2 separate regions of the Homo sapiens genome follow, and region 1 is linked to region 2. Evidence: fine-mapped expression QTL. A gene starts in region 2. The other region holds a variant in brackets. All regions are shown on one strand. Distances are between the middles of the regions.

Region 1 (16,019 bases), 30 kb after region 2:
CACTTCCGGGTGGACGAGTGGAAGCGCTCCGCCAAGCAGGGGGACGTGGCCGTGGTCACGGTAGGCGGCCGGGGGCTCGCCCGGAGCCCACACCCCTGCCCTGCCCCCAGGAGAGCTGCCCCGCCCCCGAGGGCCCCCTCGCCCCCGCTGCACTTCTTCTGGGTGCTGTCGGTGATGCGGGCTCCCGCTTCTCCAGGACAAGACCCTGAAGGGCGCCGTGTATCGCATTCGGGGCTCAGTCTCTGCCGCCAACTACATCCAGCTCCCTAAGAGCAGCACCCAGTCTCTGGGGCTGACGGGACGATACCTGTATGTGCTCTTTCGGCCCCTGCCCAGCAAGCACTTCGTCATCCACCTCGATGTGTCCTCCAAGGTACGGAGCCCGCGGCTGGGGGCTGCGTGGGAGCCCCGGCACCCCTGCGGCCCCTGTCTCCTCACGGCCCTGCTCCGTCCCCACAGGACAACCAAGTCATCCGTGTGTCTTTCTCCAACCTCTTCAAGGAGTTTAAGTCTACGGCCACGTGGCTCCAGTTTCCCTTGGTCCTGGAGGCCAGGACACCTCAGAGAGGTGACACCAAGATGGGGTGTGGATGATCCAGGACAGGTGGCTGGAGGGAGTTGGTGCAGGCCCAGTGAGGCTCCTCTGCGGCCTGGAGGACAACCTGGCGGGGGCACAAGCTCACAGTTCTGGGAGTCGCGGGCTGTCAGGAGGGTGGGCGCTGACCCTGAGTGCCCATCCTGCAGATCTGGTGGGTTTGGCCCCCTCCGGAGCCCGCTGGACCTGCCTGCAGCTCGATCTGCAGGACGTTCTCCTGGTCTACCTGAACCGGTGCTACGGCCATCTCAAGAGCATCAGGCTGTGCGCCAGCCTGCTGGTCAGGAACCTGTACACCAGTGACCTGTGCTTTGAGCCTGGTGAGGGCCGCACCTGCACTCCCCACTCCATATCTCACCCATGCTCTCAGCCCTGGAGAGGCCCAAGTCCAGGGTGCTTGGGAAAATACAGTGCTCGAGCTGTGCTGTCTCTGAGCTCTGGCCAGAACCCATCCCAGAGGCAGCCCTGGGGTCAGAACCCATCCCAGAGGCAGCCCTGGGGTGGGGCGGTGGCTGGGCTGGTGGCGTGGCAGTGCCTTGGCGGGTGCCCTGTGTTCAGGTGGCTAAACAGCCTCCCTTGACCTGGAACAACCCTGCTCCTTGTAGCCATCTCTGGGGCCCAGTGGGCAAAGCTGCCCGTGACTCCTATGCCTCGGGAAATGGCATTCCCTGTGCCCAAGGGAGAGAGCTGGCATGACCGCTACATCCACGTCCGGTGAGTGGTTCTGCTTCTTTCGAGGGAGGCCTCGGTGGTGGGAGGGTGGGTGGCCCTTGGGCCCCCAGACACTGACTCTCCCTCTGCCTGCCAAGGTTTCCAAGTGAGAGCTTGAAAGTGCCTTCCAAGCCGATTGAGAAGAGCTGTTCCCCTCCTGAGGCAGGTGGGTCTGGGGGGTCAGCGGGGACCCAGGTTAAGGCCTGTAGGGTGCGTGGGGCTCGGTAGGAGAGGGCAGGGCTGGGAAAGGACCCAGTGGTGTGCTGGCTGCAGCTGGTGCAGGGACCCAGGGAAGCCCGTAGGTTGTCCGAGTTCCCAGAACCACGAGGGTGGGAAGTCTGTGTGAGGGGTACCCGGGGGCCCCAAGCTTTCTAGCTGGAAGAGGAGACTTTCAGGGCCTAGGGTGGAAGTGGGGATACTGGCTGTGGGTCCTGCAGAGCCGGTGAGGCTGGGCCACTTGCTGCTGCCCTCCCCAGGCGTCACCCTCACCAGGCATCTGCACAGCTGGCCCCTGGGTCACTGGGGTTCTTTGCTCTGTTCTAGTCCTCCTGGGGCCGGGGCCACAGCCTCTCCCTTGCCCGGTGGCCTCCAGCAAACCTGTGCGGTTCAGTGTGTCTCCAGTGGTCCAGACGCCCAGCCCCACAGCCGTGAGTACCCCCTTCGCCCTATGAGATGGGGTTGGGGTGTGATGGCCCAGGACGCTGATGGGCACTTGTCCCCCAGCAGTCCGGCCGGGCCGCCTTGGCACCCAGGCCCTTCCCGGAGGTCAGCCTGTCCCAAGAGCGCTCAGACGCCTCCAACGCGGATGGCCCCGGTTTCCATAGCCTTGAGCCCTGGGCCCAGCTGGAGGCCTCTGACATCCACACGGCTGCTGCCGGCACCCACGTGTTGACTCACGAGTCGGCTGAGGTGCCCGTGGCCCGCACCGGCTCCTGCGAAGTGAGTGCCCATCCCACAGCAGGCGGGGCCTGGTGAGGTGTGGGCTGGGGCAGCTGGTAGCCCGCCCCGAGATGCATTCAGAACGGATGTGCCTCCAACGGTCTCCTCTTGTTCAGCCTCCTGGCAAGGAGCAGAGCTGGCGGGAGGCGGCTTTGGGGAAGAATCTCTGTCCACAAAGAGTAAGGCAGGGCTTCTGCTCACCCCCAATGCGTCAGCCCCAGGTGGTCTGTGGGGGACCCTCGAAGGTCTGGCAGTGCAACTGGAGTCCCAGCTTCCACCTTACCACAGCCAGCAGGAGCCACCCAGGACCAGGGCAGTCTTCTTGAGAGGCAGGACCCAGCTAGGGGTTGGCGGGGCTCGGAGTTGGTCGGGCATTCTGGGGACCTGGCTGAGCCTCCCAGGACTTTGATGCGAATGGCTGTTTCAGGGCTTCCTCCCAGACCCAGTCCTGAGGCTCAAGGGCGTCATCGGCTTTGGGGGCCACGGCACCAGACAGGTGAGGCTCCTGCGGCTGTGTCCAGAGCAGCTCTCGTTGGCCGGCTCGAGCGCTGAGTACAGAACGGGGAGAGAGGAGAGACCTATGTCCTGTGGTGGCTGTGTGTGGGCTCCCGAGCCCCCCTGGCACAGCGGTCCCGTCCCCCTGCAGTCCGCTGCTTCCCGCGTGCTCAGGCATCTGCCCCGCCCACAGCTGCTGTCACCTCCTGGTGCCCGGGGGCTCTCAGGGTCACGGGCATCTCTTACTCACTGGCTGGGCTAAGTGCTCCCCCCGAAGACCCAGAGCTCTCACGTCTTTAGAGCTCTGATGATCCAGACCAGCAGTGTGGGGCCAGGCTGTGGGCACAACCTGTAGGTCCCTCATGGGTGACGTGGGCCTTCTAGGAGAGGAGCCCCATGGCAGAGGAGGTGGCCTTCCCCTCTGCCTCAGTGGCCTTGGGCCCTTGTCAGGCCCTGCTGGGTGCCTGCTCTGAGTGTTTGGGGGCCCTTTGGCCTTTTGTTACCCCCACCCCGGAGTTTCTTGCACTGGAGGCGGGGCTTAGAGGACAGGCGTCTGTGCATGTGTGTACACGTGTCTGCTTGAGTGTTCCAGCTGTTCTTTTGACACATGCAGCCTGTGACTCGTGTATGTAGTGTGTGCAGGGTGTGTGTTCTCTCTTGCCCCTGGGTGGCTGTGTGCCCAGGTGTGTGTGCCAGGCCTGCCACCCCCTCTCCCTGGGCTGGAGTGGGAGGTGAGGCTGACCTCCCGGCAGCCAGGAGGGGCCTGGCGTAGCACCGGTCCTCAGCCCCCCGCCCCCTTGTGCCAGGCCCTGTGGACCCCAGACGGGGCGGCTGTCGTGTACCCCTGCCATGCGGTCATCGTCGTCCTGCTCGTGGACACGGGGGAGCAGCGCTTCTTCCTTGGCCACACAGACAAGGTGGGTGCTGCCCGGGCCTGGGGCAGCTCACACCTGCAGCCCCTACACCCTCCCTCACCCTTCTGCCTCCTAGGTCTCCGCCCTGGCGCTGGATGGCAGCAGCTCACTATTGGCCTCGGCCCAGGCAAGGGCCCCTAGTGTGATGCGGCTCTGGGACTTCCAGACCGGGCGGTGCTTGTGCCTGTTCCGGAGCCCAATGCACGTTGTCTGCTCTCTCAGGTGAGCACAGGTCTGCCCCATGCAGGGGGAGGGGGTCAGCCCAGGCGACAATGACCACCTCCTCCCTGTTCACAGCTTCTCTGACAGCGGGGCCCTTCTCTGCGGGGTTGGCAAGGACCACCACGGGAGGACGGTAACAGGGCCCTGGCTGCGGGTTGGGGTGGGGCTGTCCTGATGCACGCAGACAGCTGGAAGGGTCTTGGTTTTCTGAAACTCCAGCTTCATGTGACCCTGGGTCCCTGCTCTGTGTCCTCCCTGTGGTGGGGCTCCCTGCACTCTGGTGTTCATGCCGCCCCCGTGCCCTGCACAAAAACCACCACCAGCAGCTCACATTTCACGTCTCGGCTTTTCGGCCATCGGAGTCGGTTTAAGCCAGCGTTTACACACCTCGCCTCGTTCTCTCTGCTGGTGATGCGGTTGTAAGATTTTCACGTGGCAGAGCCCCTGCAGCTGACCCACGCTTGGGCATCAATGGCACCTCCACACAGCCGAAGCACCCGGCATCTTGGTGGGGGCACCTTTTTAAACATTTTTTTTTTGAGAGAGAGCCTTGTTCTGTCACCTAGGCTGGAATGCAGTGGTGCAATCATAGCTCACTGCAGCCTTGACCCCCTCCCTGACCTCCCCGCCAGCTGGACTCCAGCCATCCTCCTGCCTCAGCTTCCCAGATAGCTGGGCCACAGGCGTGTGCCACCACACCTGGCTAACTTTTTTTTTTTTTTTTTTTTGAGATGGCATCTTGCTCTGTCGCCCAGGATGGAGTGCAGTGGCGCGATCTTAGCTCACTGCAAGCTCCGCCTCCCAGGTTCACACCATTCTCCTGCCTCAGCCTCCCCAGTAGCTGGGACTACAGGCGCCTGCCAACATGCCTGGCTAATTTTTTTTTTTTGTATTTTTAGTAGAGATAGGCTTTCACCTTGTTAGCCAGGATGGTCTCACGTTTTGTTTTTTTAACTTTTTGTAGAGATAGGGTTTCATTACATTGCTCAGGCTGGTCTCAAACTCCAGGGCTCAAGCAGTCCTCCCACCTCAGCCTCCCAAAGTGCTGGGATCACAGGCATGAGCCACTGTGCCCAGCCACGAGCTGCTTTTTATCCACCTTCCGGCTTGCGGGGGGGTTTGTACTTCTCTGCGAATGGGTTGCAGTGCTCAGCATTGCGGGTCTCTGTAGAAGTCCCAAAGCTTCAGGATGAGAAGATGGAGGGGCTGGTTTCCTTCCACTCTCCACGGCCGCACGCTCAGAGGCTGGTCTCCGCATGAGAGAAAAGCCACCTCCGGGTGGGGCTCGGCTGGGCCTTGCAGAATCGAGGTGGCCCCGACTGGCCCTGCCGTGCGGGCTCAGCCTGGGCTTGTTGCAGATGGTGGTGGCCTGGGGCACCGGCCAGGTGGGCCTCGGTGGCGAGGTGGTCGTTCTGGCAAAGGCGCACACTGACTTTGACGTCCAGGCCTTCCGGGTCACCTTTTTTGATGAAACCAGGTGATGCAGCCGCCCATCCACGATGTTGGGAGAGGGTCTGGGCCCGGAGTGGGGGCCGAGGCCCGAGCACCTCCCCCTGGCTTGGCTGTGCGTCTCTGCGTCTCCCGGTGGGTCAGGGCGCTGCGAGCTGCGGCAGTGCTCAGTCCTCATTCCTTGCAGGATGGCGTCGTGCGGGCAGGGCAGTGTGCGGCTCTGGCGGCTGCGTGGCGGGGTGCTGCGTTCCTGCCCCGTGGACTTAGGGGAGCACCACGCGCTGCAGTTCACCGACCTGGCCTTCAAGCAGGCCCGGGACGGCTGCCCGGAGCCCTCGGCTGCCATGCTGTGAGTCCCTGCCCTTCCCCACGGCCTGCCCCGGCATGGGGGCCCTGGTGCCTGGGCCTCCCCTTCCCTGAGGGCCTCACCTTCCCTGCCGCCTCCTCGGGCAGCTTCGTGTGCAGCCGCAGTGGCCACATCTTGGAGATTGACTGTCAGCGCATGGTCGTGCGGCATGCCCGCCGCCTGCTCCCCACACGGACTCCAGGCGGTCCCCACCCACAGAAGCAGACCTTCAGCTCAGGTAAGAGGGCGCCCACCACGTGGCCAGGGTGGCAGGGACACCGAGGCACTGACGCCTCCCTGCCCCCAGGCCCCGGCATTGCCATCAGCAGCCTCAGCGTCTCCCCGGCCATGTGTGCTGTGGGCTCTGAGGACGGCTTCTTGCGGCTCTGGCCCCTGGACTTCTCCTCGGTGCTCCTGGAGGCAGGTGATGCTGTGGGCACGCTCTCCCAACTCCGGGAGAGCCTCGCCTGGATGCTGGGGCGGGGAAGGCCCAGTCCCCGGGGCTCTGCTGTCAGCCGCCCTGGCTCCTGGCTGCACAGGGTGCCACGGGGCCAAGTGGCATATCCAGAGCCCTGGGGCGGCTGATGCCAGGGCGGCCCGCGGGGCAGCCTCACGGAAGGGCCCGGTGGGACGTGGGTAGTGTGTGAAGCCCCTCAGCCTGGGTCCCGCCTAGCCTAAGAGTGGTGGCCTCGAGGGAGCTGCATCTTGCAGCCGTGTGGAGCCTGGGACTTTGAGCAGCAGGGAGTGCATTTGCTGGGGTGTCGGGGACCCGAAGCCTGAGCATGCGGCTCACCCCGGGGTGGCCCTGGAGGCCCCTGACCCCACCCCACCCACAGAGCACGAGGGCCCCGTCAGCTCAGTCTGTGTCAGCCCCGATGGCCTCCGTGTGCTGTCTGCCACCTCCTCGGGCCACCTGGGCTTCCTGGACACGCTGTCCCGGGTGTACCACATGCTGGCTCGCTCCCACACCGCCCCGGTGTTGGCCCTCGCCATGGAGCAGAGGCGGGGACAGCTGGCCACCGTGTCCCAGGACCGTACCGTCCGCATCTGGGACCTGGCCACCCTGCAGCAGGTGGGGTTTGGCAGGGGCAGCACGGCAGGGAGGGCCGGGAGGTCCTGAAGCTGGGGTTTGTCAGCGGGGGTGAGAGGGGCCTATAGGGACCTGGACTTTCCAGCCTGTGTCGGCCCCATGGGTTTGGGCCGCCTGGAGAGCCCCTGGGCCCTTGAGATCCCTGCCCTCCCCTCAGCACGGCCCCTGTCCCACAGCTATACGACTTCACATCATCAGAGGACGCCCCGTGCGCTGTCACCTTCCACCCCACAAGGCCAACCTTTTTCTGTGGCTTTAGCAGTGGGGCCGTGCGCTCCTTCAGCCTGGAGGCCGCTGAGGTCCTGGTGGAACACACGTAAGTGCCCAGCTGGCCACCAGCCCCACGGAGACCCCACGGTGGAAGCTGGGGTGGCCAGGTGGGGGTCATGTGCAGGATGGCCAGTGCTGGCTGGAGCCCCACCCTTTGCTGCCCCATGGGGACTTCCATGGCCAGGCTGGTTGGCTGGAGGTCGAGGGAACCCATGGTACCTGGGCTTCGGGGCTAGGGCCAGCGGGGTCCCTGTGTGTGCTGCAGGTGCCACCGAGGAGCTGTCACCGGCCTGACCGCCACCCCTGACGGCCGCCTGCTCTTCAGCTCCTGCTCCCAGGGCTCCCTGGCCCAGTACAGCTGTGCGGACCCCCAGTGGCATGTCCTCCGAGTGGCAGGTTGGGCCCCCTGCAGCCACTCTGGGGGACTCCTCAGGGCGGGGGAGGCCTGGATCTGGTGCAGGCCCACACCTGGACACACATGCCGGTTTCCTGGTGCACCGACTGGGTCCTGTGGGGGGGCGTGGCCGCCTCAGTAACCTTGTCAAGGCCCTGAGGAGACTGTGGTTTAGCGTTCACTGGACCCCAAGGCCAGAGGTCAGCTCGGGTCTGTGCCCAGGAGGCGGCAGGCAGCCCAAGCTCCAGGTCAGCAGCTGGAGTCAGACCCAGGCATGGGCACCTGCCCTGTCCTGCGGCCACCATAACTTGGGCCCCCTGAGTGGTCACTTATGACTACTGCTGGCCCACGGGGACTCCCAGCTCCCCTGGCAGCGCCTGGCGCCCACTGGCACCTTGGCAATCCTCTGCCGGTGTGATGCGTCTGTGCTCCGGGGCTGGTGTTTCCCGAAAGTGGGGGCAGGGGCGGCGGCCTCCTCGGGCCCTGGCCACGCGCACCCCGGC[A/ACTCC]CTCCCCACCCAGCTGACCCCTGCCCCGTGTGGCCACAGCGGACATGGTATGCCCGGATGCCCCCGCGAGCCCCAGCGCCCTGGCAGTCAGCAGGGATGGCCGCCTGCTGGCCTTTGTGGGACCCTCCAGGTGCACAGTGACAGTCATGGGCTCGGCCTCCCTTGATGAGGTGAGTCCGCAGCCCTCCTGGGTCCAGGGAGACTGGGCCATGAGAGGCTGGCTGCAGGGGCAGGAGGGAGGTCACGGCCACTCGGGAGCAGGACCCAGGCCCTGTCCCGCCTCCTGTCGCAGAGTACACATCAGCCATGTGGGGCCCACGTGCGGCCAGGTTCCTGTGCAGGGCAGGTGCTGCCTGGGTGCCGAGTGCGTGTCCCCGGGACCTCCCTCCCGAGCCTGACCCTGGGTGGCACCGGCTCTGCCCAGGGGCCCTGACTGTCGGCCACTTACCACTACCCCCAGCTGCTGCGAGTTGACATCGGCACTCTGGACCTGGCCAGCAGCCGCCTGGACTCAGCCATGGCTGTGTGCTTTGGCCCTGCAGCTCTGGGCCACCTGCTGGTGTCCACCTCGTCCAACAGAGTCGTGGTGCTGGATGCTGTGTCGGGCCGCATCATCCGGGAGGTGAGCCTCAGGGCTGTGGCCCGCCGACCTGGCCCTCCCTGTGCTGTCCAGGCCTGGCCTCTGTGCCTGCAGCCTCTCCAGCTGGGTGGGGGGCCGTCGCCACACCCACAACGAAGGGAGGCCCCAGGCTGCTGGCCACTCTCCTGAGACACGGCATTTCCCAAGAGCACTGTGTTCCAGCTGCCCGGTGTCCACCCTGAGCCCTGCCCCTCCTTGACGCTCAGTGAGGACGCCCGCTTCCTGCTGATTGCCGCCGGCCGGACCATCAAGGTGTGGGACTACGCCACACAGGCCAGCCCAGGCCCCCAGGTGTGTGCGTGGGGAGGCAGGTGGCTTTGGCGGTCAGGAGCCTCCTCAGGTGGCCCTGGAGACCCCTGCAGGTGTGGGTGGGGGCAGGGAGAGCAGAAGGTGAGGGGTGAGAGTGACCCCCCAAGGATCCTCTGTGCCTCCGGGGCCTCACACTGTGTGGGGCTCACCGTCCCTGGGGACTGGGCACACGGCAGCATCCATGCCCCGCCTCGGGGTCCTGCATGTGACGCCGCTACCCCTAGGTGTACATCGGCCACTCGGAACCCGTGCAGGCTGTGGCCTTCTCTCCTGACCAGCAGCAGGTCCTCAGCGCAGGGGACGCCGTCTTCCTCTGGGATGTCCTGGCCCCTACTGAGAGGCAAGTGCCTACTCTCAGCTGTGTCTGCCTAGGCCCCCCAGGCCCTCCTGAAACCCTCTCTCCTCCCTCTCCAGCGACCAAAGCTTCCCCGGGGCCCCCCCAGCCTGCAAGACAGGTGAGTGGCTGTGCTCAGCTGGGGTGCAGGTGCTGCGCTGACTCTGGGGCCCGTCCTGTGTCTGCCTAGTGGCCCTTCCTCTTCCTTCCCAAACATCACAGGGCTGCTTCTTCCCCAGGCCCGGGCGCAGGACCGCTGGAGGACGCAGCGTCCAGGGCCAGCGAGCTCCCCCGGCAGCAGGTCCCCAAGCCATGTCAGGCATCTCCACCACGGCTGGGCGTCTGTGCCAGGCCTCCCGAAGGTGGCGATGGTGAGCAGCAGGGGTCCTGGAGGAGTGGGGGGATTCGGGGGTCTGAGAGGGCACAGGCCCAGTGGCAGCAGGTACTCACGCACGTCCAGCTCTGGGGTGCAGGTGCCATCGCTGCTCATCAGGTGGAACACAGTGGGGTCGGGGTGGGGGCAGCTTTTCCTCTCCTCCTTAGCCTCATCAGGTGGAACACGGTGGGGTCGGGATGGGGGCAGCTTTTCCTCTCCCCCTTGGCCCCAGGCACCTTGTCCCCGTCAGATGAGGAAGGACCCTGTGAGGAGAGCTGTGACCCCGAGGGGCTTGGGCAGGCCTCAGGCCCACCTGTGCTCACGGAGGAGGAGGCTGGCAGGGCTGGAGACGGGGCCTGGGCTGCGGCAGTGGGCTCCTGGGGGCTTGCCCTGCCTCCCCGTTCCCCCGGCCAACCCCGTGAGCAGTGGAGGGCAGGGCAGGGACGCTGGTGCCGGTGCAGGGGCCTGAGGACGGTCGGTGAGTCCCCCGTGTGACGAGGCAAGGTCACCTGCAGTGGGACACGGTTTGCCTGCGTCTGTGGCTCCGGCCTGTGCCCCGCCGTGCAGTTCTCACTGTGTGGTAGACCAGGGGCTTGTGGGGAGACTGCGTGTAGTGTGGGGTCTCTGAAGAGCTCAGGGCAGTGTAATGCCACAAGCTCTGCCTCCTCCCTGCCAGGCGCCAGGGACACCAGGAATTCGGGGGCCCCACGCACCACCTACCTGGCTTCCTGCAAGGCCTTCACGCCTGCCAGGGTCAGCTGCAGCCCCCACTCTGCCAAGGTGGGGAGTGGTTTCTGGGAGCCCTCTTTATCCCCAGCAAGCACAGAGGCCCCCCGCAGGGCTCCCCAGCACCTCCTCAGGGTTGCTTTTGGTCGCCAAAGGTGATGGCTCTGGCCCTTGGGCGCCTGTCCCCTGGAGGCAACTTCATCCCACACCCCCACCCCTGCCCTCCGCTGGCCTCCAGACGGGACTCTGTGGTGGCCTCCTGCTGACCTGCCTTCCCCTCTCACCCAGCAGCTGCCCTTGATGAGAGCCCCACGGGCCTGTGCCCCTCCTGGCCCTGGCACAGTGCCCACAGCTCCCACACCTCCTACCCCAGCTTCCCCGTCTGCCCCTGGGTGTCCTCTGCAGCTGGCCTGGGTGTGCCCCAACACAGCCTCCCATGTGCAGGCTTTGGGGCACAGGTGGCCATGCTGGGCCCCAGCAGCATCCGGGTCTCCTTCCTCGCAGGGCACTTGCCCGCCTCCCGCCAGCGGTGGGTGGCTGCGTCTGAAGGCTGTCGTCGGTTACAGCGGGAATGGGCGGGCCAACATGGTCTGGAGGCCGGACACAGGTGGGGGCCAAGAGCCTACCCCCACCCCCAGCCAAGATGCGGCCGCGCGTGGTCCAGCCGTCTCCACCCCAAGGCCAGGACCTGGTGGCAAATGAGCGCCAGCCATCAGTGTGGGGCTCTGTTCTCCCGGTAGCGCCTCCTGGCGCTCCAGCCGAGGTCCTGTGAAGCACTTTGGCTACTGGACGCTGGGGAGGGCGCAGCTGGGACGATGCTAACCCCTTGGCCCCGCCCCACGGCTCGGCCCAGGCCCCGCCCCCTGTTCGGCCCCTCCCCAGGCCCCTCCCCGCCCCCCCCCCCCCCCGGCCCGGCCTCAGGCCCCGCCCTCTCTGCGCACAGGCTTCTTTGCCTACACGTGCGGCCGCCTGGTGGTGGTGGAGGACCTGCACTCTGGCGCCCAGCAGCACTGGTCCGGCCACTCTGCGGAGATCTCCACGCTGGCCCTCAGCCACAGTGCCCAGGTGCCCGCCTGCATCGCCCTCCTCCTCTCCCAGGGCCACCGTGCCCGGCAGAACCCAGCTCCCGGACCGGTGCGGGTTCTCACCACCAAAGACGGAGCAGACGGCCACCCCAGCCTCCACTCCAGCCAGCCACGGCCTCCCCACTCACGCCTGGCCTCTTGCCTGCCAGGTCCTGGCCTCTGCCTCGGGCCGAAGCAGCACGACCGCCCATTGTCAGATCCGCGTCTGGGACGTGTCTGGCGGCCTCTGCCAGCATCTCATTTTCCCCCATAGCACCACCGTGCTGGCCCTGGCCTTCTCACCAGATGACAGGCTTCTTGTCACACTGGGTCAGTGGGAGGGAGGGTGGAGGCCAGGGGCTTCCCTAGACCCCGGGGGGGGCTGCATCTGTGCACCTGACGTGGCTGCTCTGTGTCCTTCCCAGGGGACCACGATGGCCGCACCCTCGCCCTGTGGGGCACGGCCACCTATGACCTCGTGTCCTCCACCCGCCTCCCGGAGCCGGTGCATGGTGTGGCCTTCAACCCCTGGGACGCCGGCGAGCTCACCTGTGTGGGCCAGGGCACTGTCACCTTCTGGCTCCTTCAGCAGCGTGGGGCAGACATCAGCCTTCAGGTGCCACCCGTTCAGCGTTTGGGCCCAGGGGTTGTTTTGTGGGGTGGAATCTGCCTGGGCCCCGGGACACTGCTGACCCATGGCCACTCTCATACTTTGCCAGGTGCGTCGAGAGCCAGTCCCAGAGGCAGTGGGGGCTGGAGAGCTGACCTCGCTCTGCTACGGGGCACCTCCCCTGCTCTATTGTGGCACCAGCTCTGGCCAGGTCTGTGTCTGGGACACGCGTGCCGGCCGCTGCTTCTTGTCCTGGGAGGCGGATGACGGTGGCATTGGTGAGTGCCCCGCAGAAGCCCTGTGGCCCTCAGGACCCCTACCTGGGATCCTCAGAGCTGGGGCAGAGGCCTCATCTGTAGCCCTGGCGTCCGGGCAGCCTTGTGACCCAGGGCCTCTGGGAAGGCAGCCGTGGCCCCTTATGGCTCCTCCTGCCCCTAGGGCTGTTGCTGTTCTCGGGTTCTCGATTGGTCAGCGGCAGCAGCACGGGGCGGCTGCGCCTGTGGGCCGTGGGGGCTGTGTCGGAGCTGAGGTGCAAGGGCTCAGGCGCCAGGTGAGCTGTTCACCCCTACGTGTTTTGGCTGCACGTGGGTGTTGGTGTCCCTGACTGGGGCTTGCAGCCAGTGCCCCGCCCCCGCAAAGGCCGCCCTGCAGACCGGCCGCCTGCTAGCCCCTCCAAGGGACAGGCTTGGGTGTGGCCTGGGCCTCACTGGCTGCTGTCGAGTACGGGCATGGGCCCAGAAGCCCCAGCTCCATGGGCTTTCTCTTCTTCCACCGGGAGGGCACAGCCAGGTCCTGAGATGCAATGCTGAGGGCCCTGCCTCGGCTGGGGACCCAGCTGGCTCTTGTCATCGGCCTTGAGACCCATTGTTCTCTCCTTCCCTGCACCCTGAGGTCCAGTTCTGTGTTCATGGAACACGAGCTGGTGCTGGACGGGGCTGTGGTGAGTGCCAGCTTCGATGACAGCGTGGACATGGGCGTCGTGGGCACCACGGCGGGCACGCTGTGGTTTGTCAGCTGGGCCGAGGGCACCAGCACACGTCTCATCAGTGGCCACAGGAGCAAGGTGAGGGACTTCCAGCCTGGGCAGAGGCGGGGCAGCCGAACCTGGTGCCCTCCCTGCCTGCCGGCTCCATCTCCACCAGCCCAGATGATTCCAAGTCCTGCCGTCACTGGCTCGCAGCGGCCGCCTTGGGGTTCCCAGCGGGGAAGTCTTGGGTGTGCACGTCCCCTCAAAGCCGTCCCGGTTGTGTCTGCACAAGCGAGCCGCCTGGCAGGCCTTGCAGGTCTTCTCAAACTGTCCTTTCCCTGCTATTGCTTTGCGTTTTTTTGTTTGTTTGTTTTTTGTTTTTTGTAATTGTCAAAGAAATCACATCAGTCCGGGCGTGGTGGTTCATGCCTGTGATCCCAGCACTCTGGGAGGCCAAGGCAGGTGGATCACCTGAGGTCAGGAGTTCGAGACCAGCCTGGTCAACATGGCGAAATCCCATCTCTACTGAAAATACAAAAATTAGCCGGGCCTCTTGATGTATACCTGTAATCCCAGCTACTCTGGAGGCTGAGACAAGAGAATCGCTTGAACCCAGGAGGCAGAGGTTGCAGTGAACCAAGATTGCACCACTGCACTCCAGCCTGGGCGACAGAGACTCCATCTCAAAGGAAAAAAAAAAGATGAAAAACCCCACATCGTCTGTCCCTGCACCTCCCATAGACTGGCTTTGCTGACTCAGTCTCATGGGATTGTTCTCTGAGGCTCAAGAGGTCAGGAGGCCCAGGTAGCTACTGGGTCAAGTTCTGCTCTCTCTGGGTCAGGTCTGTTCAGGTTCTGGTTGGTGTTGGGTCTAGTCCTGTAAGGCCCAGCTCTGGCCTGCAGCCTCCTGGTGCTGGAGCTGCGTCTCCAAGAAGTACACAGCACTCATCTCTCTGGGACCTCCTGGTCTGGAAGCTCTGTGGCCTCATGGGGTTGGGACAGCCACCGTGTCGCCCCCTCACCCGCCAGCTGCAGCCTTAGGAGAGGTGGCCTCCTGGGCGGAATTGGGGCGGCAGGACAGGTGCCATTCCTTCCCCTGCTGGACCAGGTTCCTGGCGTGGCGTTGGTCTAGCAGCTGTGGCCATGGGCTTCCTCCTGTGGGTGTAAGAGCTCTGCGTGTGGTCAGCTGGGCCCCACGGGATTGATTTTTCCTTGATGCTGAGTCCCATCATCCAGTTGCCCCTGGGTTGTTTCTTTAGAAACCTGTCTTTAGTATTTGGAGATGACGATAGCCAGCAAAGAAAGTTGAGTTTGAGACAGGTGAGGGTTGTTTACTTTTCTGGAAGCAGGTTTGCTGAGGTGTAGTCGTCACAGCACAAGCTCCGTGTGTTTCAGGGGGTGGCTTTTGGCATATTCAGCAGCTTTGGAAACCCCGTGCGTGCCTAGAGGAAACCCCGTGCGTGCCTGTTCCTCGGTCGCTCCCTGCTTCCCGCCTCCCCAGCCCCTGGCGACCGTTGAGTGGCTTTCTGTGTCTGGGTCTTCCCATTCAGGATATTCTGTAGGAACTGGCTCACCTGGCTTCTCACCCTGAGCATGGTTTCCAGGGTCATCCCAGCCGCTGTGTGTGCCAAGCCAGTCATCCCTCTTGATGGCCAAATACTGTTCCATTGTACGGATAGATCATGTGTGTGTCCATCCACCAGGGCTGGGAAATTCGGGTCCTGAGACCGTGACCTGAGCCCGTGGTCACTGGTGGCCTTCCTGTGATGTGGAAGTGCGAGGAATTCTGGGCCCCGCCTGTGTGGTTCTGCCTGGGCGGTTCTGCCTGGGCCTGGACTTTGCCGTTTCCTTGTAGGGCCCAGGGCCCTCCCGGGGAGATGGACTGAGCTGTCCTGGTCTGAGTCCCTGCAGTCCCTCATTGCTCAGCTGAACTGAATTTTTTTTTTTTTTTTGAGACGGAGTTTCTTGTCGCCCAGGCTGGAGTGCAGTGGCATGATCTTGGCTCACTGCAAGCTCCGCCTCCCGGGTTCACACCATTCTCCTGTCTCAGCCTCCCAAGTAGCTGGGACTACAGGCACCCGCCACCACGCCCGACTAATTTTTTGTATTTTTAGTAGAGTCGGGGTTTCACCGTGTTAGCCAGGATGGTCTCGAACTCCTGACCCCGTGATCCGCCCACCTTGGCCTCCCAAAGGGCTGGGATTACAGGCATGAGCCACCGCGCCCGGCTGAACTGATTTTTTTTTAATGAAGTGCATCGTGTTCCCACTTGCACTTAAAGTTCACATTTGGTGCCAGGCTGTATTGCTTCTTCTCACTGGTGAGTGGCAGCTGTGTCTCCTTTCTGCCAGTCCAGCAGTCCCAGCTGTCAGTGGCACCTGCATAATGACACGTCTGCATTTCCCCCCAATCAGCGTGCAGCGGTTTTGGGAGGAGGAATGCGACTGCATGGCGCGCTCGCTGCAACCTCAGTCTGCAGCCTGCTAGGGACGCACGGCCACACTCCTGTCTTTCAGCCTCAGTCTGCAGCCTGCTAGGGACGCACGGCCACACTCCTGTCTTTCAGCCTCAGTCTGCAGCCTGCTAGGGACGCACGGCCACACTCCTGTCTTTCAGCCTCAGTCTGTAGCCTGCTAGGGATGCACGGCCACGCTCCTGTCTTTGAGGTGCTGTCAGAACAGCTTTCTCCTCGGTATCCCGCCGGGTTTGACTGGCTAGTGGGCTTGCTTTGGTTTGGACTCACCCAGATCTAGTGCAGGGACACACACGGGGGCCGGCATTGCTCCTTTCCGCCATGTGGAGTTGGCCGGGGCCAGAGGCACATGCTCTGGTTTGGACAGCCCGGCCCTGGGGGCTGGAATAGGAAATGCCTGCGTCCCTTTACCCTGCCCAGGGGCCAACACCCCCAGCCTAGCTACGGCTTCCCCCAGGTGAACGAGGTGGTCTTCAGCCCCGGGGAGTCCCACTGCGCCACATGCAGTGAGGATGGGAGTGTGCGGGTGTGGGCCTTGGCCAGCATGGAGCTTGTGATCCAGTTCCAGGTGCTGAACCAGGTGTGTGGGGAG
Region 2 (13,247 bases):
AGACACAGACTAGCAAGGACTGTCTGTCCCAGCCGGGATTTGTCACTCTGCCTCCCTCCGTTAGAGAGTGGAGAGGCCTGGAAGGTCCCCGCGGCCTGGGTCTTGCAGATGGCACCAGCAAAGGCCACCGGCCACTCCCCGCTGCCGTCACCTGTCACACAGCAGCAGTCCCGCGGCTCTTCCCGCGAGGCCCTTCACGTGCCGCCGAAGGCCGGGCTCCCTAGACTTCATGGTCGTGTTTGCATATTCTGTTGCTGTGATCTGAGACGGCCCCTCTCAGAAGCGGGTGCCACAACCCGCTGGTGGGATGAGTGGGTCACCCAGGTGCAGGTCCCTTGGTGTGTGGAGGGTGGGGTAGGCTCCTTGTAACTGCAGTGTGGCTGACGGGATGTGCCATCCTGTTTAGCTGAGAATTTGGGGTCAGCGGGCTTAGTGCCAGGAAGGCTGTGGCCAAGTGCCATGTCTGCTTCAGGACAAAGGTGTGGATTTGTTTCCCTGAGAGGGGGTTTATGTGGAGCGTGGTACGGGAGGCACACGTGCTGCTGGCTTGTCGGCACACAGGTGGGCGGGTGGATGTGAGTGGGCGCGGCTTGGCAGTAGCTCCCATTTTACATGTCAGTTGCTCCTGGGCAGAGCCTGGGTGCAGGGATGCAGGAGGAGGGCTTCACTCTCGCTGGCTGTACCTTGGGAGCTTCAGCCACATGGGTGGAAGGGGCATGTGTTTGTCAAAATTCATCAAAATGTTCAAACCTCGGATCTTTGTATTTTGTGCTTTGTAAGTTACAGCTCAGTAAAAAATGATAGCAAAAAGGACACCCACTCTTAGGCCCAGCAGTTCTACTTCTGGGAATTTATCGTGTAGGTCGAGTTGATCAAAAAAAGGTGTAAACGTGCTCAGATGCATATTGCCACCGTTACCCAAGAGCTGGCGCAGTACCAGTTCACGAGCAGGCGGGGGTGCTGGGCCTGAGCTCAGGGCGTGCGGGTGGGAGCAGCGCCAAGTGCCTCCACCCCCTTGACCCCGCCCGCGAGGCATGAGCGGCACCGTGGACACGTCTGTAGACGCTGAGGAAACTGACTGTCAGGGCGGCTCCTAGAGGGGCCTAGAGCAGGGCGAGCGCGCGTCCTGACTCATCCCCTAGAGCACTCGCTCGTTCTTTTGTTTTGTTTTTTGAGACACGGTCTGGCTCTGTCGCCAGGCTGGAGTGCCGTGGCGCGATCTCGGCTCACTGCAACCTCCGCCTCCCGGGTTCACGCCATTCTCCTGCCTCAGGCTCCCGAGTAGCTAGAACTAGGTGTGCACCACCGCGTCCAGCTAATTTTTGTATTTTTAGTAGAGACGGGGTTTCACCATGTTGGCCAGGATGGTCTCCATCTCTTGACCTCGTGATCCGCCTGCCTCGGCCTCCCAAAGTGCTGGGATCGCAGGCGTGAGCCACGGCGCCTGGCCGAAGTCGCTAGTTTTTTAAAAATCAGATCAGTTTTAGAAAACAGAAGGCAGTGGAAGAGTCTGTTTGTCCCGTGCTCTGCCCCTTGAGACACGCAGCTGAGGGTGCTTAGGGTGCCGTTCGTTAGGCGGCTGCTGGTCACCGAGAGTCTCCTTTTGGTTTCTCACTCCGTGGTCATTTGGGTCCCTGCGGCCTCACTGTGACCCACGCCGGAGCAAGCCTCCGGGTCCTCCTGTGCCATCGCCCCTGCCCGTAACCCCTACTCCTCAGACATGGCCATCCCAGGAAGTGGGGGCCCGCTCAGGGCAGCAGCCGGGAGGTGTGGCCAGGGCCCCCCGCGTCACAGCACACTTGGAGCCTGAGGCAGCCCATCAGCCGGGAGGCGGGCCTTCTGCTCTCTTTCTAGAGTTTTCAGTGTCATGCGAATAGGGGTGTTTGCCACAGAAAACAGGTCAGCATCAAAAGTTACCCCTCTCCAGCCTTTTAGCATTTGTTTTATGTCCATATAAACTTCTTCAGTGTAATGTGTTGTGTGTTCATACTTTTATTTTTTAAAAATCATGCTGGGCCGGGCGCGGTGGCTCACGCCTGTCATCCCAGCACTTTGGGAGGCCGAGGTGGGCAGATCGGGAGGTCAGGAGATCAAGACCATCCTGGCTAACACGGTGAAACCCTGTCTCTACTAAAAAAAAATACAAAAAAATTAGCCGGGCATGGTGGCGGGCGCCTGTAGTCCCAGCTACTCAGGAGACTGAGGCAGGAGAATGGCGTGAACCCGGAAGCGGAGATCGTGCGGCTGCACTCCAGCCTGGGCGACAGAGTGAGACTCCGTCTCAAAAAAAAAAAAAAAAGAAATCATGCTGGGCTGGGCACAGTGGCTCACACCTCTGATCCCAGCACTTTAGGAAGTTGAGGCAGGAGGATCACTTGAGGCCAGGGGTTCAAGACCAGCCTGGGCAACATAGCAAGATCCCATCTCTAAAAAATGTTTAAAAAAACTTAGCCAGATGTGGTGGTTCACACCTGTATTCCCAGCCACTCAGGAAGCTGAGGCTCAGAATATCAGGCTGCAGTGAGCCATGATCGTGCCACTGCATGAACCCCAGCCTGGCTGACAGAGTGAGACCCTGTTTCAAAAAAAAAGAAAATGCCATCCGCAGTGCTGGGACCTGCGTTCTTACCTCACCTGGGTTGCACATCTCTCCTTGGCCAGCATGCACGCTTTTACATGCACTGCTGCTGTCTTCAGCATCTGCACGGTACATTTCACTGCCGCTTACTCAGCTGTCCCCTGAGGCTGGACATTTAATTTGTGTCTGGCTTGTCGTTGTTATCAGCGCCACTGTGACACACATCCTCAGTTACTTCTGAGTTGTGGGCTTGCCATGCGGGAGGTTGCCATGCGGGAGGTTGCCACTAGGGAGAGTGGGCTGTGTTGTACGCTTTGGTGGCCCACTCCCCAGTCTCTCCACCTCCCCCAGCAGCAAATGAGCCAGCCCCAGTCCCTGTGCCCCAACCTCCAGGGTTAACCCCTGGGTGTGCATTTGTTTATTCTGAATCTTATCATTTATCGCCCACCAGACTGACTTGGCCATCTCTGGCCTCGAAGGGTCTCCCTCAGCGAGAGGTGTCCTTCCTGAGCTGTCGCTCCATCCTGAGCAAGGCCTTCGCCCTGGGAGCTTAGTAATGTCAACCTTGTTCTAAACAGGACCTGGGGCTACACTTCAGTCTTCCAGATATCGAAAGATGGTTCTAAGAGGCTCTAAAAACCCTAATTTTCAGATGGACAGTGCCCTCTTCTTTCAGCCTCAGCCTCTTGTGTGATAGGCTCTTCCATTACGTGAAGGTTTTGTCAGCCTAGGAGTAGGGTGGATCACAGCTCATTGGCTGGATCTGGTTGCAGAATTGTAGGGTGGGAGTGGACGTTGGGGAGAGGCGGGCATAGGGGAATGGGCCTGTGATGTCACCGTTTCGCCCGACAGGGCTCTGAGTGTGAGCAGTGTGCTCCCCTGTGCTGCTGGAGAGCCATGACTGTCACTGCCGAGATATTTAGGGCAGGTGGAAACAGCCCAGAGCTGAGCTCCAAGTAATTGGTCTCTAAGGGATGTGGCAAAAAGTCCCCGTGGCAAAACCTGCTCTGCCTGGCTGGGGGAGCTTCACAGAAACTGTCCTGGAGGGACTGGCATTCTGCTCTGCAAGTTTTAGGTTGGAAAACTCAGAAATGCCCCCACTCAGCTCTGTCCCAGGTACTCCCGGGGGGATTCACTGATGGACTGGCCGAGAGGACACTTAGCTTCCACAGCTGCACGTCCCCCGGCTGCCAGAACCCCGCATCTGCCTGCCCAGGAAACTTCCACAGGCTGATGGCTCCAGGGGAGGGAGGGGAAGCGGCATTTCTGACACCATGGAAGGCGCCCACCCCCCTGCTGCAGTCCTGCCAGGTGAGGGCAGGGGTGAGGGGCAGGGCTGCACCAGCTCTGCCTGGAGGGCATGGCTCATCTGCCCATCCGCCAAGTAATAAGCATCCTTGGCCCTGCCCGGGAACTGAGGCCCCTGCACCTGAGCGTCCCTGGGCCTGGGCTGGCCATGCGTGTCAGTGACCCCTGATGACCCCCAAGTCTCTGTTGCAGGGGATCCTCTTGGTGTATGACATCACCAACCGCTGGTCCTTTGACGGCATCGACCGCTGGATCAAGGAGATCGATGAGGTAGGCCTGGGTCCGGGGAGCCCTCCCGGGGAAGGCAGGCTGGATGGAGGTACCTGGGCCCCGGGTAGGCTCTGGATTCCCGCCTGCCGCCCCTCCTGTGGCCCCGGCTCTGCACCCTGCACTGTCCCACGGCCTACGCCTGGGCATGCTGGTCACTGTGCACACGACAGTCGGGCGTGGAGCCCAGCAAGACCAGGAGCTACGGGGCCACCCGGAAGGGCTGCACTGTAGGGCCTGAGCCCTGGGGTCTGCCCACCTTGACCTCCGCCCACCTTGACCTCCCACGGCCCTCACCCCATCATAGTCCAGACAATGAGGGCGGGCCCTGCTGCGGCTGAGGGGTGGGTGGCACCCTGCGTTTGTGCGTCTGCTGAGTTCTGTGCCCCCAGCATGCACCCGGAGTCCCCCGGATCTTGGTTGGAAACCGGCTGCACCTGGCCTTCAAGCGGCAGGTCCCGACGGAGCAGGCCCGCGCGTACGCAGAGAAGAACTGCATGACCTTCTTTGAGGTCAGCCCCCTGTGCAACTTCAACGTCATCGAGTCCTTCACGGAGCTATCCCGCATCGTGCTCATGCGGCACGGCATGGAGAAGATCTGGAGGCCCAACCGAGGTGGGTGGGCGGGCGCCGGCCAGCCCTGAGGTCCCCGAACCTGGGCTGCCCTGATCACATGGAGGCTGAGGGGGGCCAGGGGCCAGTGAGGGAGGTTCAGGCAGGTCCCTTGGCAACGCGCAGTAGGGGCTCGGCCGGCGGCAGGTCAGTGACTTGGTAAGAGCAGCCTCGGGGGAGAGGCGGCAGCACTGGGGGGCACAGGAGCAGCTGATGACCCCCCCTCAGGGTGCCGCCGTGGCCGCTGCACTCTGCCATGCCTGTGGGTCCCTGGCATTGCTGGTGTGGGCAGTGTGTGCTCGCTCCTTCCTGGTTCCGGGGCTGGTCCTGCTGTCAGGGGAGCACAGGAGCCGTGCCTGCAGCTTTGTGTTGTGTCATCTGCTCTTCCTGGGTAGCCACATCCTTGATCAGAGGCTCCCGTGAAGCCCCCCTCAGGGAGGTGGTACTGTTGATTTTGTGGTGCCTCCCAGCAGGGTTCACTGCTGAACAGAGAGAGGGTGGCTGACGGTGTCACTGTCCTTCTTAAGAGGAAGCACGGGCCTGGCACGGTGGCTCACTCCTGTAATCCCAGCACTTTGGGAGGCCACAGCAGGTGGATCACCTGAGGTCAGGACTTCGAGACCAGCCTGGCCAACACGGTGAAACCCCGTCTCTACTAAAAATACAAAAATTAACCGGGCGTGGTGACGCACACCTGTAGTCCCAGCTATTCGGGAGGCTGAGGCAGGAGAATCGCTTGAACCCAGGAGGCGGAGGTTGCAGTGAGCGGAGATCGTGCCACGGCACTCCAGCCTGGCGACAGAGCGAGACCCGTCTCAAAAAACAAAACAAAAGAATGAGCGAGTGCTCTAGGGAATGAGTCAGGACGCGCGCTCCCCCGCTCTAGGGGATGAGTCAGGACGCTTGAAGGGCCAGATCACGCAGCCCTCACACTGGGAGCTGCATCATCCAGGCCAGGAACTGGGCAGAGTGCCCTCTGGAAGCCCCGCAGCAGCACCGCCCAGCGTGCCTGGCTTTAGGGAGCAAGGCAGGGGATGGGGTGCCAGTGGACACATCTGTGCTGGGCAGAGAAGTTTGGGCGTCCAGGTCCTCCAGGAGCCCAGCCTGGGAACACCTCTAGGAGTGTGGAGACCCCGCCAGGCTTCTCTTGGGCACCTCAGGTCTCCCTGCACAGGGCCTCCTCCCCCACAGCCCCATGGTCTGACACCCCCTCTGCCCCACAGTGTTCAGCCTGCAGGACCTCTGCTGCCGGGCCATCGTCTCCTGCACCCCCGTGCACCTCATCGACAAGCTTCCACTGCCCGTCACCATCAAGAGCCACCTCAAGTCCTTCTCGATGGCCAACGGCATGAACGCGGTCATGATGCACGGCCGTTCCTACTCCCTGGCCAGCGGGGCCGGGGGCGGCGGCAGCAAGGGCAACAGCCTCAAGAGGTCCAAGTCCATCCGTCCACCCCAGAGCCCCCCCCAGAACTGCTCGCGGAGTAACTGCAAGATCTCCTAGCGGGGATGGGCGGGGCCGCCTGTGCAGATGCCAGGAGGGCTCGAGCTGGACACTCCTGGCTGGACGCCAGGCCAGTGCCGCCTACGTGGAGACTGTCCACACAGCTGCCTCAGAAGCGCCGGGCTTTCCTCACACCTGAGCCGGGTGCGAGGAGGAGCATGCACGGACCAAGCGCGGCAGGCGGGAGGAGGGGGCGCGGCTGGGCTGCTGGTGCTTCCGGGAATCTTGGTCGGAAACAAGCCGGGCCTCCCCAGCTGCCTGGGCTTGACCGGCGGGGAGCCTGGTTGGCCTTTCTTATTTATATAGAGAACACTTCACTTTTTTGTACATTTTTAAGGGGCCTTCAGGGAAGCCTGGGTGTGGCCCGGTGGTGGTGCACTGGTGACTTCATGGCCACGCCAGCTGCGGGGACGCACTTGGGACTCCTCGAGAGGGGACTCGCGGCCGCGATGGCAAGGCATCCTGTGAATTCATGCGCTGCGAGTGGCGGGGCTGCCCAGAGGCCGGGGGAGCAGACAGGGCCGGTGCTCCCTCTGGAAGCTTGGGTGACCGGGGCCCTGGCTCCCACGGGATGGAGGGTGTGGTCCTGTGGTCAGAGCCCAAGCAGCACTCAGGAGAGGGGAGAAAGGAGGTGCACCTGGCAGCCCACATTTTTGTTGCTCCCCAAATCCCTCCCCACGTGGGGATGAGAACCTTCCTGCTGTGATGTGACACCTTCGGGGACATTGACCACTCAAAACTCAGATCATCTCGCCCACCCTGGAGAGTGCAGAGCTATCTGTAGACTTAGGAATACTTGATGGGCAGCGGTGCAGACCCCGGGCACCTGCGTGCAGCCTCCTGTTCTCGGCAGCTTCTGTCGCTGGCCCTGGGGTCCCCACAGCTGCAGCTCTCCTGTGAGGTTGCACGGCATCAGAACCATCCTGACCTTCTTAGGGACGTGCCTGGAACCACCTCGTCCACGTCCACGTCCACCTGGGGGCCTCGGGAGGCTAGGCCCCTCCTCAAAGGCCCACCAGCCCGGCGCTCATGCTGAGCCCCAGGCACGCAGGGCCGGCCACCTCTCTCCTGAAGCCATTGGCCGCTCCTCCACCCAGTGCTTCTGCCCATGCCTGCCCCAGCAGCCCCTCTGCACGGTCACCATCGCCTGGGCCTGCCCACAGCACTGGTGCTCACCTCTACCTCCTGTCCTCAGGCCGTGCGGCACGACATGGCCAGCACGCAGAAGGAGCCCTCCCGGGACCCAGGACCCCCCGTGGTGGACTCCGCGGCACATGCTTCCCAAGGTGGTCCCACGGAGGGTGTTACTGGGCACCAGTGGACTCGCCCCATGGCCCGTTCCTGGGAGATGAGGGCCGTGGCCTGCATGAACTACCAGATGAGTAAGGGAACCCCAGGCAGGCGGCCCTGCCACAGCCCCCAAAGACACTGGCCTCCTGCTCCAGCTTCCCTGTCCTGGCCCCACCTGTCCTGTTGCTGCCAGCAGGGCCCTTGTTTGGGATTATGAACAAACCTCACAGACTTTGAGGACCTGGATGGTCCTGCATTCACGGCATCAACACTACCCGCGCTGCTGTTAGACACTCCGCCATTCCTGGTTCTCTCCGAACCGTTCTTTGTACAGTAAATGTAATTCAGCTGTGGTCCCCACGTTTTGCTGTGTCTGGTGGGGTGGGTCTGGCAGTGGCGGTGCCCCGTGCCAGGGGCCAGTGCTGCTTCATACCCGGCAAACTGACCTCTGGCCTTTGTTTTGCCTGCTGTTCCCTGCGCTGACCGGGCTGACCTGCCGCGGTTGGCTGGGTTCGCCTCAAAGTGAGGGCTGGAGCTGGGCTGGAGCAGCTGGGCCTGGTCACGGCCATTCTCCTCTTCCCGGTGGATGGAATCCCAGCTGGGCTGTGCTGAGCCCTCGCTCACAGTCCCCGGCAGCAGATGGCCTGGGGCGGACTGTCCCCAACAGCAGCAGGACTCCAGAGGGCCAGGTCCTCCAGTCAGTCGGCCCGCTCAGCAGAGCCGCCTGCACGCTGGCCAATCTGGTGTCTGCTATGCCCGGCCCAGGGGGGTGTGGACGCCCCGGAGGTCACAGCTGAGCTGGAACGGGGCACTCCAGTTGGTACAGGGACCAGACCACAGCCTCTGGCTCAGGTGCCTCCCTGTGCTGTTTCGTGGGCATGTCCGGGCCTTAAGCCCCTCCCTGGCAGCTCCAGCCCAGCCGCCTGCTGCTGGGTCTGGCCTAGCTACCCCCACCCCCACGCTATCAGGGCCCACCCCCAGTCTCCTTGTAGAGCAGGGACTGGCGCCTGGAGCCGTCTCCGGGTCTCATTCTGACCAGACCAGGCTCCTGTTACCCTGCCTCCTGGGTCAGAGGTCAGACACAGGGTCAGGGGGACACTCCCATCCGGTCTCAAGAGAACCACTCCCTGAGGCCCCAGACATCTGGAGCCACAGAGGGTTTGGAAGGGTAGATTCCAGGCAGCCTTTTGTCCTGCTGCACCAGGCAGGCCAGCCCCCTGCCCTCCCCAACGAAGAGGAGCCAGCCTGGGGATGTGTGCCCCGCCGACGGGGGGCTGGGGCAGGGCAAGGCTCTGGTGCCCTGGGACACTTGCTCTTTTCAGCTGCAGACGCCCTTGCACTTGGCCTTCCCTCGGGCGGTGCCATCCCACGCGGAGCCACGTCCAGGGCTACACGGTGCGTGGGCCGAGGCTCCGGCATCAGCGTTTCGGGCTGTTCTTATGCTTGTGGTGGCCACAGGCCTCTTCCTGCTGCACCTGCCCCGCCTTGGGGACAGGCCTGAGCCCCAAGCCCGCTGCCTGGTTTCAGGGATGGGGTCTCTGGGAATGCAGTCCTGCCGGGTTGGGCCCCACTCCAACAGGGGCAGCAGAGCAGAGGAGGCCGGGCTGTGCTGGGCGTCCTGCAGACCCCTGTGCCCCTGAAACAGCCATGGAGGGGGGAAGGAACCTCGGAGCGGAGTGAAGCCCTCGGCCGCACGTGACCGTTGCCAGCCTGGACCTGGCCCGGGGGACCCAGGCTGTGGTCAGCCACGCTCTGCGGGGAGGGCCCGTGCCTGCCACCCCCATGGCATAGGAGCCTGGGGTCCAGAGGGCGCCAGGGACAAAAGCTGGGATCTGCTGGCCCTGCCCCCACCCTACTGAGGGTCGTCAAGGAGATTGATCTCAGCCCAGGGGTGGACGAAGGGGTTCAGGTTACAGGGTCCCCTCCCCTCCCCCTCTCCAGCCAGAGCCAGCCCTTCCCCGCCCCGGTGACCCTCATGGCCAGTGGCTCTGTGCTCATGGGCCTCTGGCCCCTCCCCAACCTCCTCCCCTCTGCCCTGTGCTGACCAGGGCCTGGGAGCCCCCGCACGGTTCAGACAGAGGGGCCAGGCTGAAGCTGGAGAGGAACCAGCGTCACACAGACGGCCTCTGAGAACTTGGAGACCCCGTTACCCACCCAGCAGGGGTGTCAGGACAAGCATCTGCTGCAGGCTTCAGCCTCAGGGGCAAAAGGGAGCCCCGGGGTCCTGGTGGGGGCACCGACCACAGGCCCGGAGGGTGGATGCCTGCAGGAAGCTGGGCTCTGTGGAGCCCGAGGAGGGGCTGGTGGCCACACCCCCCGGCCCCCTGGCTCGGCGGCCCTCATGCCCGCCCTACGTCCACTCCTGCCGCTCCTGCTCCTCCTCCGGCTGACCTCGGGGGCTGGCTTGCTGCCAGGGCTGGGGAGCCACCCGGGCGTGTGCCCCAACCAGCTCAGCCCCAACCTGTGGGTGGACGCCCAGAGCACCTGTGAGCGCGAGTGTAGCAGGGACCAGGTGAGTGTGGTCGGGCCGGGGTCCTGGGGCTCAGAGCAGCCAGCCTGGGCAAGACCCTGCTGGAGGTGCCACCTTCTGCCTGGGCTCCCCAGACTTCTGGGGGGTCTGGGTCTGGGCCCCTTAAGGGGCCCAGAGACACCCCCATCGTTGCCCTCATTTGTCTTAAGAATAAGAGCCCTCCCCACTCCAGCTTTCATGCTCCCCATGTGCCTCCACCCTGGGGCACCATCATCCTCGGCGACCACCCCCACCCCGTCACTGCCTCTCCTCCCACCCTCTCCTCCCACCCTCTCCTCCCATCCACTTCTCCCACCCCTTCACTGCCTCTCCTTCCATCCTCTCCTCCCACCCTCTCCTCCCATCCACTCCTCCCATCCACTTCTTCCATCCTCTTCTCCCACCCCGTCACTGCCTCTCCTTCCATCCTCTCCTATCCACTCCTCCCATCCACTTCTTCCATCCTCTTCTCCCACCCCATCACTGCCTCTCCTTCCATCCTCTCCTATCCACTCCTCCCATCCACTTTTTCCATCCTCTTCTCTCACCCCGTCATTGCCTCTCCTTCCATCCTCTCCTCCCATCCACTTCTCCCACCCCTTCACTGCCTCTCCTCCCACCCTCTCCTCCCATCCACTCCTCCCATCCACTCCTCCCATCCACTTCTTCCATCCTCTTCTCCCACCCCGTCACTGCCTCTCCTTCCATCCTCTCCTCCCACCCTCTCCTTCCATCCTCTCCTCCCACCCTCTCCTTCCATCCACTGTCCTCCCTGTCCTCCCACCCTCCTTCCATCCGGGACCAGTGCAGATGGTGGTGGGGGTGCTGCAGCCGATGTCCAGCCTTTGTCCTGGCCCGCACCACCTGCTGGGTGGTCCTGAGCACTGTACGCCCTCCTTGGGCCTCAGTTTCCTCGTCTGTACAACGTAAAGAATAACGGAACTTGCTTGTGGGTGTGAGGATTCTGGAAGGTAAGCCAGGTGGCACCTCTGGCGAGGTGGCTCCTCACACAGGATGGAAAGGACACTGAGTCCCCGGGGAGGCAGCCACAGAGCGGGGGGCTCCCTGCTACCCCACCTGGGCCTCCCCTTGCAGGGGCCAGGCCAGAGCCCCGGGGCGGGGGGCATTGGGGCTCCCACCTAAGTGTCCCCCATCCCCAGGACTGTGCGGCTGCTGAGAAGTGCTGCATCAACGTGTGTGGACTGCACAGCTGCGTGGCAGCACGCTTCCCCGGCAGCCCAGCTGCGCCGACGACAGCGGCCTCCTGCGAGGGCTTTGTGTGCCCACAGCAGGGCTCGGACTGCGACATCTGGGACGGGCAGCCCGTGTGCCGCTGCCGCGACCGCTGTGAGAAGGAGCCCAGCTTCACCTGCGCCTCGGACGGCCTCACCTACTACAACCGCTGCTATATGGACGCCGAGGCCTGCCTGCGGGGCCTGCACCTCCACATCGTGCCCTGCAAGCACGTGCTCAGCTGGCCGCCCAGCAGCCCGGGGCCGCCGGAGACCACTGCCCGCCCCACACCTGGGGCCGCGCCCGTGCCTCCTGCCCTGTACAGCAGCCCCTCCCCACAGGCGGTGCAGGTTGGGGGTACGGCCAGCCTCCACTGCGACGTCAGCGGCCGCCCGCCGCCTGCTGTGACCTGGGAGAAGCAGAGTCACCAGCGAGAGAACCTGATCATGCGCCCTGATCAGATGTATGGCAACGTGGTGGTCACCAGCATCGGGCAGCTGGTGCTCTACAACGCGCGGCCCGAAGACGCCGGCCTGTACACCTGCACCGCGCGCAACGCTGCTGGGCTGCTGCGGGCTGACTTCCCACTCTCTGTGGTCCAGCGAGAGCCGGCCAGGGACGCAGCCCCCAGCATCCCAGCCCCGGCCGAGTGCCTGCCGGATGTGCAGGCCTGCACGGGCCCCACTTCCCCACACCTTGTCCTCTGGCACTACGACCCGCAGCGGGGCGGCTGCATGACCTTCCCGGCCCGTGGCTGTGATGGGGCGGCCCGCGGCTTTGAGACCTACGAGGCATGCCAGCAGGCCTGTGCCCGCGGCCCCGGCGACGCCTGCGTGCTGCCTGCCGTGCAGGGCCCCTGCCGGGGCTGGGAGCCGCGCTGGGCCTACAGCCCGCTGCTGCAGCAGTGCCATCCCTTCGTGTACGGTGGCTGCGAGGGCAACGGCAACAACTTCCACAGCCGCGAGAGCTGCGAGGATGCCTGCCCCGTGCCGCGCACACCGCCCTGCCGCGCCTGCCGCCTCCGGAGCAAGCTGGCGCTGAGCCTGTGCCGCAGCGACTTCGCCATCGTGGGGCGGCTCACGGAGGTGCTGGAGGAGCCCGAGGCCGCCGGCGGCATCGCCCGCGTGGCGCTCGAGGACGTGCTCAAGGATGACAAGATGGGCCTCAAGTTCTTGGGCACCAAGTACCTGGAGGTGACGCTGAGTGGCATGGACTGGGCCTGCCCCTGCCCCAACATGACGGCGGGCGACGGGCCGCTGGTCATCATGGGTGAGGTGCGCGATGGCGTGGCCGTGCTGGACGCCGGCAGCTACGTCCGCGCCGCCAGCGAGAAGCGCGTCAAGAAGATCTTGGAGCTGCTGGAGAAGCAGGCCTGCGAGCTGCTCAACCGCTTCCAGGACTAGCCCCCGCAGGGGCCTGCGCCACCCCGTCCTGGTGAATAAACGCACTCCCTGTGCCTCAGACCTCCTGGCTTGCTGCTGCTGGTCGGGCGACCCTCATCCTTCCAGGTGCCCCATGCCCAGCCAGTTTCCGCTGGGGCCTTGACACCCACTGGGGCTTGGGCTTTGGTACAAGGTCACCAGGGAGTGCCTGTCCGCCCCTGCATCCCCAACCAGCTCCATCCTGCCTCAGCAGCTGTCTCGGCCCCAATCCCACTGCCCGAGCTCCAGCAGCAAGGATCAGGACGTCCCAAGCCCTTGACCCCACAGGAGACCCCGTCTCCCACCCAACCTCACAAGGTGCTCCTAGGAGGAGGTGGGGCAGACACCAGCAAGCCGGCAGCAGGACATGCTTTATTCTGAGCAGGCTGGGCCCTTCGGCCAGCGGCTGAGAGCACAGACTGGGTGGGGCTGTCGTCCACAAGGTCCGGCCTAGGGAGGCAGGGTTCGTGCCTCACAGAGCCTCCGGCAGGGATGCAGGTGTGCGGGGGTGAAGGAGGGGCTTAG

What was found.
Region 1: its variant is fine-mapped to the expression of WFIKKN1 in pancreas (GTEx, PIP 0.98).

What each region holds. Positions count from the first base shown.
Region 1 is chr16:649,795-665,813 of GRCh38, forward strand. It overlaps WDR90 (WD repeat domain 90), which reads left to right. Exons shown (of 41, transcript NM_145294.5): 2 at 1-60; 3 at 197-373; 4 at 460-568; 5 at 745-915; 6 at 1,201-1,309; 7 at 1,405-1,472; 8 at 1,850-1,953; 9 at 2,033-2,245; 10 at 2,673-2,741; 11 at 3,547-3,657; 12 at 3,731-3,876; 13 at 3,952-4,009; 14 at 5,235-5,353; 15 at 5,513-5,674; 20 more. Among named protein-coding and RNA genes, the nearest start is that of WDR90, 8.4 kb to the left of the region's middle. RefSeq lists enhancers at 1-430, 9,592-10,482. The variant A/ACTCC (reference allele first, on the strand shown) is at 7,929.
Region 2 is chr16:621,354-634,600 of GRCh38, forward strand. WFIKKN1 (WAP, follistatin/kazal, immunoglobulin, kunitz and netrin domain containing 1) reads left to right here and starts at 9,632. Exons shown (of 2, transcript NM_053284.3): 1 at 9,632-10,071; 2 at 11,229-12,764. The coding sequence starts at 9,901. The coding sequence ends at 12,704. It overlaps RAB40C (RAB40C, member RAS oncogene family), which reads left to right. Exons shown (of 6, transcript NM_021168.5): 4 at 4,079-4,156; 5 at 4,546-4,768; 6 at 5,989-7,915. The coding sequence ends at 6,269. METTL26 (methyltransferase like 26) reads right to left here. Exons shown (of 6, transcript NM_032366.5): 6 at 13,077-13,247. The coding sequence ends at 13,244. RefSeq lists enhancers at 348-1,101, 6,054-6,787, 8,257-8,990, 8,516-8,810, 8,991-9,725 and a silencer at 6,174-6,424.